Regions from separate parts of the Homo sapiens genome. Here region 2 is linked to region 1. The links come from fine-mapping of genetic effects on gene expression. A gene starts in region 1. The other region holds a variant in brackets. All regions are shown on one strand. Distances are from middle to middle.

The links. PIP is the estimated chance that this variant, and not a neighbour inherited with it, causes the effect.
Region 2: its variant is fine-mapped to the expression of APRT in transverse colon (GTEx, PIP above 0.99).

The regions. Positions count from the first base shown.
Region 1 is chr16:88,809,679-88,815,013 of GRCh38, reverse strand. It overlaps APRT (adenine phosphoribosyltransferase), which reads left to right and starts at 3,086. Exons shown (of 5, transcript NM_000485.3): 1 at 3,086-3,194; 2 at 3,358-3,464; 3 at 4,458-4,591; 4 at 4,866-4,944; 5 at 5,174-5,335. The coding sequence starts at 3,115. The coding sequence ends at 5,316. GALNS (galactosamine (N-acetyl)-6-sulfatase) reads left to right here. Exons shown (of 14, transcript NM_000512.5): 14 at 489-1,280. The coding sequence ends at 575. RefSeq lists enhancers at 1,343-2,026, 2,027-2,711, 4,217-4,752 and silencers at 2,424-2,683, 2,934-3,333.
Region 2 is chr16:88,840,324-88,845,685 of GRCh38, reverse strand. GALNS (galactosamine (N-acetyl)-6-sulfatase) reads left to right here. Exons shown (of 14, transcript NM_000512.5): 2 at 2,857-2,980; 3 at 3,715-3,789; 4 at 4,592-4,694. Among named protein-coding and RNA genes, the nearest start is that of GALNS, 14 kb to the left of the region's middle. The variant C/A (reference allele first, on the strand shown) is at 2,935.

The sequences.
Region 1 (5,335 bases):
CGCCTATAATCCCAGCACTTTGGGAGGCCAAGGCAGGTGGATCACCTGAGGTCAGAAGTTTGAGACCAGCCTGGCCAACTTGGGGAACCCTTGTCTCTACCAAAAATACAAAAATGGTTGGGCGTGGTGGCTCACACCTGTAATCCCAGCACCTTGGGAGGCCAAGGCAGGTGGATCACGAGGTCAGGAGTTCAAGACCAGCCTGGTCAAGATGGTGAAACTCCGTCTCTACTAAAAATACAAAAATTAGCCAGGCGTGGTGGCGCGTGCCTGTAATCCCAGCAGCTACTCACTCAGGAGGCTGAGGCAGGAGAATCTCTTGAACCCGGAAGGCAGAGGTTGCAGTGAGCCAAGATCGCGCCACTGAACTCCAGCCTGGGTGACAGAGTGAGACTGTCTCAGAACAGCAACAACAAAATGCCCGCTGCTGCTGGGTCCAGAAGAGCTTGAATAACTGCATGTTCTTTTTCTCAATTTTCATTTCCCAGAACTGGGCACCTCCGGGCTGTGAAAAGTTAGGGAAGTGTCTGACACCTCCAGAATCCATTCCCAAGAAGTGCCTCTGGTCCCACTAGCACCTGCGCAGACTCAGGCCAGGCCTAGAATCTCCGGTTGGCCCTGCAAGTGCCTGGAGGAAGGATGGCTCTGGCCTCGGTCCTCCCCCAACCCTGCCCAAGCCAGACAGACAGCACCTGCAGACGCAGGGGGACTGCACAATTCCACCTGCCCAGGACCTGACCCTGGCGTGTGCTTGGCCCTCCTCCTCGCCCACGGCGCCTCAGATTTCAGGACCCTCCTCCTCGCCCACGGCGCCTCAGACCTCAGGACCCTGCCGTCTCACGCCTTTGTGAACCCCAAATATCTGAGACCAGTCTCAGTTTATTTTGCCAAGGTTAAGGATGCACCTGTGACAGCCTCAGGAGGTCCTGACAACAGGTGCCTGAGGTGGCTGGGGATACAGTTTGCCTTTATACATCTTAGGGAGACACAAGATCAGTATGTGTATGGCGTACATTGGTTCAGTCAGCCTTCCACTGAATACACGATTGAGTCTGGCCCAGTGAATCCGCATTTTTATGTAAACAGTAAGGGAACGGGGCAATCATATAAGCGTTTGTCTCAGGGGAGCCCCAGAGGGATGACTTCCAGTTCCGTCTGTCCTTTGTCCACAAGGAATTTCCCTGGACGCTAATTATGAGGGAGGCGTGTAGCTTCTTATCATTGTAACTATGTTATTTAGAAATAAAACGGGAGGCAGGTTTGCCTAATTCCCAGCTTGATTTTTCTCTTGGCTGAGTGATTTTGGGGTCCGGAGATTTATTTTCCTTTCACACCTTCTCAGCAGCTGCCAAGAATCAGGTGCCCAGCTCCCGCTGCCTCCCGGCCGGCCTCCTCCAGAGGCCAGCGCCACATTGGTTGTTGAAGGGCAGGACTCGGGGCTCCTTGCTGTTCCCACGCCAGCCCAACAGCCCGGGTTGAAGGAAGCCACAGGGCCAATTCTGTGTTGAACCCTCCCCAGGCCCCTCCTCCAGTACCCCCCCACCCCACGCCTTCCCAGGCCCCCCTCGGGCCATCTGGGAGACAGAATCAGGAACAAGGAAGGGGAAGGCGGAGGCCTCCTGGGCTGGACGTGGACGGCTGAAGTGTAGCTCACACACTTGGACCGGTGGGGCCGGCTCATGTGGCAGCTTCCCCGGGGACGTGAGGATGTCAGGGTCCTCCATTTCCACCTTCCCTAGGGGTCTGGAGCCCAGGCCCCAGGCCTTGCCAGCCCTGACCACCGCACACTGCGAGGCAGCCGCCCCTACCACGCCCCTTGGCATCAGACGATGGGTCCCCCACCCGCCCTGGAACCGGGGCCCCAGCAGCCGCATGCAGCCTCCGGCCTCCCCCTCCGAAGGCTCCTGGGGGCTGCCTTCCACTGAGTGGGTTTTCCCTTCTGCAGTAACTGCCAGGCCAAAGCTGAATTGTAAAAGTTGCGAAATGATGGGCCGGGCGCGGTGGCTCACGCCTGTAATCCCGGCACTTTGGGAGGCCGAAGCGGGCAGATCACGGGGTCAGGAGATCGAGACCATCCTGGCTAACACAGTGAAACTGCGTCTCTACTAAAAATACAAAAAATTAGCAGGGCGTGGTGGCGGGCTCCTGTAGTCCCAGCTACTCGGGAGGCTGAGGCGGGAGAATGGCCGGAACCCAGGAGGTGGAGCTTGCAGTGAGCCCAGATGGCGCCACTGTGCTCCATCCTGGGCGACAGAGCGAGAGTCCTTCTCAAAAAAAAGTTGCGAAATGAAGAAAAGTCTTGGAATAGAGCACAAGGCATTTTAGCTCTGGGGATTTTCTTGAAAGGAAATTGTGTTTGGGGGGAGTTATGCCTCACACAACCCCCTGGGTACCAGTCCTCGGGCGGCCAGGGGGTTCACAGCTCCCCACCCCAAGGCTAAGGGGTCACCTGGCCTCTGCAGGCGGACAGAAGGGCTTCTGCCCTCGCGGATGCGCGCCCTGGCCTGGCCACACCTTCCGGCCTCCCTCCCCCGGGTCCGGGCGGGGAAGAGCCGCCTCAACGGCAGGGCCCATCCGCGAGAGGCCAGCGCCCCCGGCCGGTCCAGCCCAGGCCCGCCGCCTCCGCCCTGGGCTGCTCCCTCCGGGCCCTGCACCGCCCTCCTGCTACTTGGACCGCTTCCTCACGCCCTTCTCCACCCCGCGCGCCAGCCTCCCGCGCGCAGCGTGGGGATCTCGGCCAATAAAGGAGAAAGGGCGCGGCCCGTACGCGCGCCAGGTGCGTGGGCGAGACCAGCTCACGCCCCTCCTCCAGCCGCCAAGGCCCCGGCCCACAGCTGCCTGGCTGCAGTCAGAAGCGTAGCCCGAGACAAGGAAGGGCGCCTTGACTCGCACTTTTGTCCGGTTCGAACGTTCTGCTCAGTGGTGCGTGGAATGCGAGCGCGTCTTAAAATCGATGGCGCCTAGGAGTCCATGAAATACGGTACAGGCTTCCGGCGACGGATGCCCCGCCCCTCACCCACGCTCCGCCCTCCGGGGATGCCCCACCCCTCGTGGCGGTCCCGCCCGTCCCCGCGCAGGCGCGCTCGGGCTGCCGCTGGCTCTTCGCACGCGGCCATGGCCGACTCCGAGCTGCAGCTGGTTGAGCAGCGGATCCGCAGCTTCCCCGACTTCCCCACCCCAGGCGTGGTATTCAGGTGCACGCACAGGCCGCCCTCGTGGCGCCCCGACCTGCGGGCCTACGGATGGGAGCGCGTGGCCCGCGACCTCCGGGCGGGCGGGGCGGGAACCCTCGTCTTTCGCCCCCGGGGCCCTGCCCTCCTTCGGCCCCGGCGTCACCAGGCCTGTCCTTGGGTCCAGGGACATCTCGCCCGTCCTGAAGGACCCCGCCTCCTTCCGCGCCGCCATCGGCCTCCTGGCGCGACACCTGAAGGCGACCCACGGGGGCCGCATCGACTACATCGCAGGCGAGTGCCCAGTGGCCGCATCTAGGGCGCTTCCGCCTCTGCGCGCGCCGAGGGCAGCACGTGGGCTCTGCGCGTCTGCTTGGGGGAGGGCCTTTGGGGTGCTTCAGGGGGCGCCGGGACGGGCGCCGTGCTTGGGTCGCCCGGGAAGGGTTGTGAGATTGAGCCCCCGAGGCCGCCGCGCTGTGCAGGCGTCCTTCCCGCAGGTTCCGGGTCCCCAGCCCAGGACAGGCGTGACCGAGTTGCCGGGTCAGTTGGTCTCCCTGGAGTGCCCAAGCTGAATCCACAGGGCCCAGCTGCCTTGCTTCTTGTTCCTTCTGCGAGCTGGTATTGAGCGCCTGCCACGAGCCAGGCCTTCCCTGGTGAAGATCACGGAATGCCCACCCAGGGAAGGGAGGCCTGGAGGCCTCCGGGAGAGCCCAAGAGGTGGCCCAGGGAGAACAGAGTGTTCCTGGCCGTCTTGCCTCTCCTAGGGTGTGACAGCCCACTCCCTGGACACTGCCCTGAGGAAAGCGCCAGCTCTTGCTGGAGCCACAACACTGCCAGAGCTCCCTTCTCACCTCCTGCAGGAAGCCCTCCCTGACCTCCTGCCAGGCCGGGGCAGGGTTTCCCTGAGCGTCCCCCAACCATCACAGCTCAGGCCACCTCGAGAGACTCCCTTTTTAGACAGAAGCCCTGGTGCAGAGCTGCCTTTGAGAGTAAGCTGAGGCCTGTCAGGTTTCTACCAGCCCAGTTACAGATGGGCTGCTCAGCTCAGAGAGAGGGGTGGTGACTCCCCTAGGAACACACAGCTAAGAAGTGGTCCCTTAAAAGACAGACCCAGGTCTGCACTCTGACCTGGAAGCAGCTCCGGGTAGGTGATGGGTAACATTCCTTAAATGGTGCATGTCACTGGCCTTTCAGCTGGGAGCCAACCAGGTACCCCTTGCCACCGGCCAACCCTGGCCCCTGGGGATTCCCATGCTGCCGAGTCACTCCTGTCACTTACCCTGACAGGCCTAGACTCCCGAGGCTTCCTCTTTGGCCCCTCCCTGGCCCAGGAGCTTGGACTGGGCTGCGTGCTCATCCGAAAGCGGGGGAAGCTGCCAGGCCCCACTCTGTGGGCCTCCTATTCCCTGGAGTACGGGAAGGTAAGAGGGCTGGGGTGGCCAGAGGAAGGGCAGGGCCAGGCCACCGTGGCCACTCTCCCCCAGTTCTAAAAGGCCTTCCCAGGCGTGTCAAGTGGAGCTGCTGTGGTTACAGTGGCCTTGGGAGCTCAGAGAGGTTGAGACATAGGCTGGGCTCACACAGCCAGGTAACAGCAAGGTGGGGTTGGAGTCAGGGTCTAGGGTGGCAGCTGCCAAGCTGTGCAACAAAGCTGTTTTCTGCGGGAGGCTGAGGACCACACACCACTTCCCACTCCAGGCTGAGCTGGAGATTCAGAAAGACGCCCTGGAGCCAGGACAGAGGGTGGTCGTCGTGGATGATCTGCTGGCCACTGGTGGTAAGGGTCTCCCCGCAGCCAACTGCTGTGGCTCCAAGGGCCTGGTGGGAGTGGGACAGGACCTCGCTGTGTGACATGGGATGCAGCTTACTGTTGTCCAGAGGGTGCCTGGTGGCCAGGCCGACACCTTCCTCTCCCCATGCCTTCCCCTCCCCAACCCAGGGGCTGGCCTGGAGCACCTGCTCTCTGCAGCCCAGGCCAACTGGGGACCTCACCCTCCCATCCCCAGGAACCATGAACGCTGCCTGTGAGCTGCTGGGCCGCCTGCAGGCTGAGGTCCTGGAGTGCGTGAGCCTGGTGGAGCTGACCTCGCTTAAGGGCAGGGAGAAGCTGGCACCTGTACCCTTCTTCTCTCTCCTGCAGTATGAGTGACCACAGGGCCTCCCAGCCC
Region 2 (5,362 bases), 31 kb before region 1:
TGCAACCTCCGCCTCCCGGGTTGAAGCGATTCTCCTGCCTCAGCCTCCCAAGTAGCTGGTACAGGTGCCCGCCACCATGCCCAGCTAATTCTTGTGTTTTTAGTAGAGACTGGGTTTCATCATATTGGCCAGGCTGGTCTCGAACTCCTAACCTTGTGATCCGCCTACCTCGGCCTCCCAAAGTACTAGGATTACAGGCGTGAGCCACCGCACCCAGCCCCATGATTGCCTTTTAAGATAGGGTAGCTGCACTTTCACTAAGACAGAGGTTGGCCAACTCCAGCCCATGGGTCAAATGTGAACCACCTGCTGGGTTTTGTTGTTGTTGTGGTTTTGGGACGGAGTCTCCCTCTGTTGCCCAGGCTGGAGTGCAGTGGTACAATCTTGGCTCACTGCAACCTCCGCCTCCCAGGTTCAAGCGATTCTCCTGCCGGCTACTGTACTCCGAGTAGCCGGGACTACAGGTGCCCACCACCATGCCTGGCTAATTTTTTGTATTTTTAGTAGAGGCGGGGTTTCACCATGTTAGCCAGGATGGTCTCGATCTCCTGACCTGGTGATCCGCCCGCCTCGGCCTCCCACGGTGCTGGGATTACAGGCGTGAGCCACCGAGCCCGGCCCACCACCTGCCGTTTTTTAAACCCATAAGCCAGGCATGGGTTTTATAATTTTAAATTGTTCAAAAAACCAAAAGAGTAATATTTTGTGACATGAAAAATTATATGAAATTCAGATGTTGATGAATAAAGTTTTATTGGCACAGAGCGTGCACATCTGCTCGCATGCTGGCTTGTGGCAGGGCTGAGGGGCTGTGACAGCCCCATATGGCCCACAAAGCTGAAAGGATTTGCTGTGAGGCCCTTTACATAATGCATTTGCTGATGCCAGCTCTAAATATCCATATTTGCATTCAGATTGGTTTCAGAAATAAATATGCGTTGAATGCAGCTGGGCCTGTGAACGTGGTGGTTGAATTCAGCTGGGCCTGTGAACTTGGTCGTTGTGTTTAGAATGTGTTGTCTTTCCCAGGTGTTGTGTGTTTGTGCTGCCGAAGCTGCTGAAGGCGGCCTGTAGAGGGCAGGGGCCCAGGCAGGCACAGTCACTTCACTGGTGTCTTGGTTGGTGCTTGGAGCACCTCAGGAGGGAATATGTCCTTAAGGAAGGAAGACAGGCCAGACAGAGGGGCCTCGGAGTGTTGGCTTCTACCAGGCTCCTGCTGAGGTGGGCGCTCAGGGAGACGGCTGGAGGATCCGAGGAGAGCCAAAGCCCCAGGCGGTGCCCTCCCCTTCTCCTTCTAGAGCAAAGTCCTGGCCCACTGCCTGTTTAAAAGCACTTTTTTCCAACAATACACACTGTAAAATTTGAAGAAGTTTTCAGTGAACACCGCCGCTGCCACTCACCTCCGGAGTTTGCCGTGGGCATTTGCTGTGCTGGTGCCATCACACCTGGCATCACCCCGGCCTCCTGGCATCACCCCAGCCTCCGTGCTTCCTGCCCTGTGCTCACCCGTCCTCCTGCTTGGGGTTTTTATTGTAAAATACACAGAACGTAAAATTGACCATGACAGCCACCTTAACGTGCACCACTCGGGCACAGTCCATTCACAGCGTGGTGCCTCCATCCCTTCTACCTGCTTCCAAACAGTCCATCCCAAGAAGAAACCGGTACTCATCAGCAGGCCCTCCCCAGCACCCACCCCCAGCCCCGGCAGCCACTCAGCCGCCTCCTGCCTCTGCGGACCGGCCTGTTCCGGAGGCTTAATGAGCAAATCACAGCCTGTGTGGCCCTTGTGTCTGCTTCCTTCCCTCACATGAAGCTTTCCAGGGCCGTGCGCGGTGTGGGGTGCCCTTCCTTTCGATGGTTGGGTAGTGTGCCGCGGTACGTGCGTGAGTTTCCTGAGACATAACACGTTACCACAGGCCAGGTGGCCTTAGCGGAAATGGATTCTTGCCGGATTCTGGAGGCCAGAAGTGCAAAATCAAGGTGTCAGCCGGGCCCCTCCCCCTCAGGCTCTCCAGGAAGGTCCTTGCTGTCCCCTGGCTGGTGGCTGCGTCACTCCAGTCTCGGCCTCGGCCTTCACCCGGCATCTCTACTGCATGTCTGCGTCTCTAAGGGCCCAGTCATAGGATTGAGGGCCCACCCTGGCCCAGCGTGACCTCATCTTAGCTCACTACATCTGCAGAGACCCTACTTCCAAATGTGGCCACACCCACGTAGTACACGCCGGCCGCACTTTGTCGTCTGCCGATGGGCGCTCAGGGTGCTCCTGCCTTTTGGCCACTGAGTCGTGCTGCCCTGGACGCTCGTATGCAGGCCTGCGTGTGGACGTAAGTTTCAGTCTCTTGGGTGTACAGCTAGGAGTGGAGTTGCAGCGTGGAACTGCAGGGTCACACGATAACTGGGCTTCTGGGGGACAGTTACCAGTTGACTTTGAAATCTAGACGTGTACAGACATACGAGGGCCTGTGTATTTATGTTGAAAATAGATGCACGTGTTTAGAGGCCAGCTCCTGCGAGCATGCAGATGCTGGTGTCAGGCTGGGAGGAGGCAGACGGACACATTCCCCACCTGAAGACCAAGCAGAAGTGGAGGCGAAAGACAGCGTGGGCTGACCGTGGAGCGGCCCCATCGTGCACGCACGCAGGCGATGCTGAGGTTTGGGCTGGCGTGGAGCGGCCCCATCGTGCACGCACGCAGGCGATGCTGGGGTTTGGCCGAGCTCTGCCGCTGGCTGGGACACAGGGTGGTGCTGGCTTCCACGGTCCCCGACACGCTCTTGGCACCATGGGCAGCTCCCCAGGCCAGAAGCACCTGCAGAAGGCGCTCATTCCTCCTCCCCGTGCTCTTCCCTGCAGATGGGATGGGGTGACCTCGGGGTGTATGGAGAGCCCTCCAGAGAGACCCCGAATTTGGACCGGATGGCTGCAGAAGGG[C/A]TGCTTTTCCCAAACTTCTATTCTGCCAACCCTCTGTGCTCGCCATGTAAGTCAGCGGGGCCCTCGCCCCCAGGAAGGGGTGAGCCCAACAGGCCGAGGCCTCCCGGGTCCTTCCAGCCCTGACTCTGGGCGGCTGCATCAACCTTGTCTATTCCTACTACTGCAGGGAGGGTGGCAGGTGGGCTCAGGCCTTTCTCATCAAATCCCAGCCCGGCTCCGTGCCATGTGGGGTGCGGCACCTGCTGGGTTTTCAGGGTCGAAGTTGCGGTATTGTTGGTGGCTGCTGTTCTGTTTCCCAGAGTCGAGTGCTGTGGCCGCCTGGGGAGAGGTGCTGCAGTGTGGCTCCGTCTCAGGGTACCTGGGAAGCAGGAGTCCCACTCCCTCCCTCCCTGGGGAGAGTCTCTCCTGCTGGAGACAGAAACATGTGGTGTTGATCGTGAGGAAGAGGAGAAGGCAGGGCACGGGGCTGGTGCTCGAGGATGGGGGCGTGTGGACCTGCACGCCCAGTGGGTGTCCCAGGAGCCTGCGAAAGGAGGCGGGGTCTTGGGGACAACGCTGAGCTGCAGGGCCCAAGGGCCACGCGTCTTTCAGTGGAATGGGTGCCGTGCCCCACCCAGGTGGTGGAGACGCTAACGGGGATTGACAGGCGTGGCAGCCCCTTGTAAACCTGCGCGTGCCTCGTCTGTCACGCGTCTGTCTACTCGTTGGGGCTCTTGTTGACGCCCGGGGTCTGAGCCACACCCTTCTTATCCAGTTTCTGTTTCTGTCACCTCCACATAGCGAGGGCGGCACTGCTCACAGGACGGCTACCCATCCGCAATGGCTTCTACACCACCAACGCCCATGCCAGAAACGGTAGGCTGCCCACCGCCTCCAGGGACACCCTTGGGGTGCAGGGTTGGGCAGGTGGGCTACGGGTGGTGCCCGTGTCTCCGGGACTCGGGTGGCAAGCTGCAGGTGGGGTACCGCTGGTGCCTGGGTCTCTGGGACTTAGGTGGAAGTGCAGGCCCCCCTAGCTGGCTTCCTTCCCTGCCCTGGCCCAGTGGGGACTGAGCGGAGGGTGCCCAGTCTGGCCTAAGGAGCTGAGCCGGCACCCCCACCCCAGAAGCTCCCACTCCCCAGGCGGGTGAGCCGCACACCCACAGGGAGGCCGGGGCTGTGGCATCAGCGGCAGTTCTGGAATGTTCTGGAATCGCTGTGCTTGAGGGGTTTGGATGGGCTCCCCAGGGGCATCTCACAGGGGAAGTGGGATTTCCAGTGGCATTTGAGGAAAGGGAAGGACGGGGGAGGCAGGGGTGGGGCAGTGCAGCATCACGTGGCATATTCCAGAGACCCCTGGAGACCAGGCAGGTGGGAGGCTGGCCTGAGAGGCAGGGTGGGGCCTGAGGGTGGGCAGGAGTCCCAAGGAAGGCGCTGGGGGGCACGGAGTCTGCCCCGTCCCCACCCTCTGGTGATGGCACTGGCTCTGAGGGGTGCCTGGAAAAATCTTGGGAAGTGCCATGCCCTGTGGACGCGCAGCCCCCAGGCACAGCCTTTGACCCCGAGGGGCCAGTGTCCTGTTAGGATGTGTGGACGCAGCCCCCAGTGTCCTGTTAGGATGGGGTTGGTGGCAGCTTCTCGGGGTCTCCTCGGGGCTCACCCAGCGCTGCTCTTCCAGCCTACACACCGCAGGAGATTGTGGGCGGCATCCCAGACTCGGAGCAGCTCCTGCCGGAGCTTCTGAAGAAGGCCGGCTACGTCAGCAAGATTGTCGGCAAGTGGTAAGTCTCCTGGCCACGCCTGCCCAGGCGTCCTGCTCCATCCACTTCCTGGCCTTGGTTCCAAGGGACATGGCCACAAGTTTCCAAATGAGGAGGGTGTCTTGGGTGGGAAACGGCAGCTGATTCTGGGTGTGTTCAGGTGTCTCCAGCGTCCCTGTGCAGGCCAGCGTGACCTTGCCAGCAGGATCTCAGGTCACCAGGCTGGTCCCACGGCCGCGAGTATCCTGCGGCATCAGACTCCGCAGGCCTGTCACCGTCATCCCTCGAGTCACAGCCCCTAGCACCCGCCACCACTGCCCCCCGGCTGCCTCCTGCCACGTCGTCCTTGGAGGGGCCACGTCATTACACACAGGAGCTGTGGCGGAGGAGCTGCCTGTCCACCCTAGGGGCCTGTTGGATGGTGAAAGCTCTGGTCTAAACCACAAAGAAGCCACCAGGAAGGAGAGTAACAGCCTAGCAGTTGATGAAATCCTGAGCTGATGAGAGCTTGGGTGCTACACAGCCCCCACGCTGCGGTTTTAGGCGCACAGGATGTTTCATTTCTTTTACTCCCTGGGACGCCTGAGTGAGCCTAGAGGGTTGGGTAGGAGTCACCTGTCCCGAATTTCTCTCCACTTGTTGGAGCGTTCCCCGCCTGTCAGGTCCGCATGCCGCCTCCTCCAGGAAGC